Regions from separate parts of the Homo sapiens genome. Here region 2 is linked to region 1. Evidence: fine-mapped expression QTL. Tissue or cell type: fibroblasts. Region 1 holds a variant in brackets; the other region holds the start of a gene. All regions are shown on one strand. Distances are between the middles of the regions.

The links. PIP is the estimated chance that this variant, and not a neighbour inherited with it, causes the effect.
Region 2: it holds the start of QTRT2, and the variant in region 1 is fine-mapped to the expression of QTRT2 in fibroblasts (GTEx, PIP 0.91).

What each region holds. Positions count from the first base shown.
Region 1 is chr3:113,962,031-113,964,716 of GRCh38, reverse strand. ZDHHC23 (zDHHC palmitoyltransferase 23) reads right to left here. Exons shown (of 5, transcript NM_001320466.2): 5 at 1,344-2,686. It overlaps CCDC191 (coiled-coil domain containing 191), which reads left to right. Exons shown (of 17, transcript NM_020817.2): 17 at 1-580. Among named protein-coding and RNA genes, the nearest start is that of ZDHHC23, 15 kb to the right of the region's middle. The variant C/T (reference allele first, on the strand shown) is at 1,357.
Region 2 is chr3:114,055,092-114,057,777 of GRCh38, reverse strand. It overlaps QTRT2 (queuine tRNA-ribosyltransferase accessory subunit 2), which reads right to left and starts at 1,041. Exons shown (of 10, transcript NM_024638.4): 1 at 914-1,041; 2 at 672-779. It overlaps CCDC191 (coiled-coil domain containing 191), which reads left to right and starts at 1,252. Exons shown (of 17, transcript NM_020817.2): 1 at 1,252-1,401. The coding sequence starts at 1,312. RefSeq lists an enhancer at 1,101-1,510.

The DNA.
Region 1 (2,686 bases):
CAGTGACACGCACCCCACCAGACCTCGTCCACTTTCACCACCCCTGAAGGCAGACCATGTATGAAAAGGTTCTCTACACAGCTGCTGCAGAGGACAGCAGCTTATCCTGATTTCAGAGAAACTGAGGCACCAGAGATGCTTCTCTTCCGTGCACCTTGATAAGCATGAAGGACATTCCAAAAGGTAATAGCTCTATCATGACAGTCCAGCAATTCATTAAATTATCTGTTCATGCTCCCACCTGCAACTGCTGAATAATACACTCAGTTTGTCTTCTAGTACTCAGCTCAGTTTGATCTAGATATTGAGATACCTATCTTGAATTCAAAGAATGTTTTCATCTTTAAGATGCTATAAAGACTGATAAAATGCTCTCTTCTATGAATTGTGTTAGAGAATTACCTGCTAGAAAAATAATTTTTCATTATAAAATACACATTTATTATATAACAAATTCAAGTAGTCCATAAATGCATATGGTAAAATGAGAAAGTCCTGTGCAGTCCTGAGATGATTACTCTTATTTGGTGTGCTGAAAATTTGAGTTGACAAAATAAAATTCTGTGGTTTTTTAAGTGAATGTTCTTGTTACTGTCTCATACTTCCTAGAAAGGATATCTAGCTGTACCACCTGCTACACGACTTAAGATACTTTTATCACGGAGGATGTGTGATATGACCAAACACCTTGAATTGAACTTTATTTCTTCTACGACATGGCTGTTCCCACACAGCTTTTCCTTTAATAGGATTATACAGTTGTCATTTAAAAAAAAAAAAAACCTGTGTTTTTCAAGATGAATGGCCACTAAAGAAAATGTAACTAAAAGTAATTCATAATACATCACTTTCCATCAAAATCACTAACAGTTTAAACCTAACTACAGTACATTTACAAAATACTGGCTGATATTAGCACCCGGAAATGAAATACCAATTTTATTATTTTGTTTGTTCTGTGTTTTTTTTGTTTTGAGACAGGGTCTCACTCTGTCACTGTACTTCAGGCTGGAGGTAGAGTGGCCTGACTATGGCTCACTGAATCCTGGACCTCTCAGACTCAGGTGATCCTCCCACCTCAGCCTCTCAGATAGCTGGGATTACATGCCCAGCTAACTTTTTTTTTTTTTTTTTTTTTTTTTGGTAGAGATGGAGTTTCACCATGTTGCCCAGGCTAGTCTTGAACTCCTGGGCTCAAGTGATCCTCTCAGCCTCCCAAAGTGCTGAGATTACAGGAGTGAGCCACCACACCCAGCCACCAGTTTTCTTTAAATGCCAAGCCTGTACATAAGGTTGAGTTCCTTAAGTCAACATGCCAGGCGCATAAATAAATCCCACAAAGCTTAAGTTTTCTAC[C/T]TTAGCTTTATTTTTGCCTCACCTCAAACATCAACTAGAAATTGAGTCTTTAGCAGCCCATATTCCAATGGCGCCAGCTAGACTTTTTACCGAATACAGAGCCTTCTAAAGAGATACAATGGAAATAGTTTTGATGCTGTTTTTTGCTGGACTATCATGAAAGTATGTTTCAAAATGTTACTGTTAACATAATGCCCCAACAAGCAGTATCCCTGACCCACAAAACTGGAGAAATTGCCACCGGGAACATAACAGTTTAGGGCTAGGGACAGGGCCACAGGATAGAGACATTGAGGGAGCCACAGAGGCAGCACAGGTATAATGCAGGGTTTTCAGAAATCAGAAGACTTCAGGAGACACTCCAAGAAACACCAGCTATTTTCCTTAAAGAAAGCACTTTATTTTCCATTTAAACAACTTGGTCACAGGACGTTATTTTACATAAATGGAAGTAATTTGTAAAATTTCCATGTAAAAGGCCTTGTGTCTGAGTCTGAGGTGATAAGAGGATATGAATACAAGTATATAAAAACAGTGCAAAATGTGCAGCCCACAGCCTCCGGAGTTGGCTTCAGAAATCCCCCTTAATGTTGCTAGACCAGTTACATTAAATATTAAATGTAACACCAGGTAAATATTCCTGGGTTTCCTTTAGTCTAACATCCAACCCAGATATGCAATAAAATGAAAAACTCAAAATCCCTAACAACTCAAACCATCCAATCACCCAGACCATTAGGATCACAATGAGTTGAGACTGCAGGCTCTATACTGTGACATCTCGTCAGTGGCTCCATCTTAAGAAATACAGAATTTTAGTTGCATCAGTAACTAGAATAGACTAGCTCTGCTTTTAAAGCTTTGCCTTTTAAATGTAGATTTCTAGAAGTTCACTTTCAAGGTGCCATCAAGAAGGCTAGGCCACTAAGAAGTCACAAGCCCAACCTAGACATCGCAGCCTCTTAAGACATTTGTCTTCACTAACCGTTCAGTCTTTAACCTGCTGCTGATCCTACAATGAAAACACTTAGTGCCAGCTGAAGCGTGGATGCTTGTCTATCAGCAACATAATTAAGTGTAGCTGATTCTGCAAGAAATTTATATTAGTCACAGCAGACATCCACAGGAACATACTGAATCGTACTCAGTAGTGAGTTTAGGATGGCTTTCCTGCTCCCCTGCATCACCCTTGCAGTGTTTAATACAAAAGGGTGCACATGTCAAGCTGCCGCTGAGAAAACCAGATTCCAAACAGGTGCCTCAGGAAAAGTCTCTTATTATCCATTGCTTGCTTAAGCAACCTCTACTTTTCAAAATGGAAGGTACCAGA
Region 2 (2,686 bases), 93 kb before region 1:
GTTTGCTTTTACAAAAATGGAAACATATTATACTATAATATATGCACTTCTCTGCAATTTGCTTTTCTCTCAAGAATAAACATTAGACGTCTTTCCTGAAGAAGAGACATAAAGCTAACTTACCCTTTTGAAAAAAACTACTTCGTGGTACTGCATAGTTTGTATGAGCACAATTTATTCAACCGCCTTTCAGACAGACCAGTTACAGAGCTGGTCCTAGGATCGCTGCAACAGTCCGAGGGCATAGCTTCCCTAACTTCATTTTCACCAATTTCAAATCAACTTTAGTTTACATTTCCTGGCAGAATGCTTCACATACATTTATTTTTAATCATTACAACACTCCAGTGATTCAGGTATTATCGTCCCCATTTTGCATGAGAAAACAGGGTCTCTGAGTTATTAAACAAGTTGCCTAGGGTCATATAGCCACAAAGTAGTTGAATTCAAAACTCCTGTTCTAAATCTTTACTCTGCTTTATAAGCCCATTTATCACCCCTAAATGGGCTGTCTCTGGAAACACCTCGGCTAAGCCAATAAGCCTGGATTTATCTTTGCTCCATGGGCCATCTCCATGGCCCCAGACCTCCCTAGGCACCTGGCTCAGAGATTGAAGACGGTCCCACCCTCCCATGGGCAGTTCGGAATAAAAACTTCCTGAAAACTCTACCTTTCAGCAGAGGCTAGTCGAAAGGGGCCCTTTTATCTCAGAGGTGTCGGCGACGCTCACACGATTTATGAGAATCTGAACTTACAGAAACCAATCCACCAGGACACCCTGAAAAGGGAAGCAGAGGAGACATGGCGGGAGTACAATCACCGTTACTGCAACACAACCAGGAAGCGTCTGGACGCGACGTGACTCATCCATCTCTAGCAGCTCCCACACCAGCAGGGCAAAGGGGCACTTACCTGCCAACAAACCATTCGACTCTTTCAGTCTTCAGACCCCTCAAACTCCTCACAGTTCACTACCACGTGTTGCAAAATTCTCTGCCCCAAAATCACTGCCTCCAGTGCAGAGCCAATCAGGGAGTACTGCGTCATCACTGGGCGCCAGAAAAAAAGCAAAGCCGACATTCAAGCGAGCCTTGATGACGGCAAGAGCGAGGGACCTCTGCCGTTGCTATGGTAACTGAGCCAACGCGAGCGGCCTGCGCAGAGCCTCGTGGGAGTGGTGGTTCGACGGTGTCCTATGCCTGCTTTCCTTGCGGGCGGAGGAACTACAATTCCCAGCGTGACCCGGAGGCAGCCCGGGCAGAAGGGCGGTTGCTGCAGCTTTGGCCGAGGTTCGGGCTCGAACTTGGAAAATGCTCCTGGCGCCTCAGGGAAGGTCCTTCTCAAAGAAAAGGATGGGGCTGAATCGCTGGAAACGGTTCACAAGGAAGCCGAGTCCCAAGGTGATCCCAATCGAGAGCTTTGGAGGGCGGGGACTTTCCCAAGGCGCGGCGCAGTCAGGAAGCCAGTCGCGGCCCGTCTGTGCTTCCTGCCTCTTCATCCTGAGCTGACACGCCCCTGCCTTGACCGCCCCAAAGCCAGCATTACCCTGAGTGAAATGCTCTAGGAGCTCTGGGGTCTGGGCACATTACGGCTTTGGTGGGCAGCATCGTGGAAGAACTGTTTGTAACGCTTTTCTAAAACCGGAGGTGTCTGCTAATGCCCATCGGGGTGAAAGGAGTTTGCAAACTCCGTTCCCCCTACCTTAAATTTTAGGAAACTTCTCGCACATTTCTTTCTTTTTCTCTCTCTTTTTTTTTTTTTGCAAATCTTGGGGTAATTGATCTTTATTAACGGGAGAGAGCTTCACATTAAATACCCTGCCTATATTCCTGCCCCTTCACTTTTACGTAAAGTATCTAAATAAACTCAGGAGTGCAAATGGATATTGAATACATTAATACTTGATTCACATAGTAATTTCTAAATTCAACCAACTTTCAAAAAATAGATTCTCTCCGTATCTATCACCCATTTGGATGCATTAGCACCTGAAGATAAGAAAAAAATAATAACCCCATTTTAAACTTGAAACATATGTGACATGTGCAAAGTCACAGTTGCACCGTGTGCTTTCCACAGACTACCTTTTTAACAGTCCCCAAAAAGATGCTTAAAATCTAAATGAGAGTACTAAAATGGAGAAGCTTCTCAGCTTTCAGCTACAGAGCAGTTTCACCAGCTGTTTTCACCCTTAAGTTATACTTTCCTAAATAATATTCTGTAGATGTATGTGGCCTTTTTGAGGGCCCCAGGCGATTGTTCTTGCGATTTATTCTAAATTTACCAGCTAAATGCATTGGACATATTCCACATGACAAATATGTTGCCCTAGATACTAGAGGGCACAGACTGAAGCATCAGGGAGACTTGGAAACTGAGGCTGCTGCTATTTCAATACATCAGTTGCATAATGTATTGGATCCAAGATAGGATATAGATATGGACTTGATGATGAAAGGTAAAAATTTAGAATAATTTCTTAGGACTCCAAAAGGAAGGATTTTTGCTGCTAGTGCTCATTATTACTGCCTAGAGAAAAAAAGGTAAAAACATAGGGCTTCTTCAAGTTCAGTTGTATTTTAATTAGATCAGCTCTTTCTTTGTTGCAGTGACAAAATTATTAAGCAGTACAGCTGCGTTAGTTATCAGTAAGATGCTTTGAAGGTAAAGTGTTAGGTAAGTGAA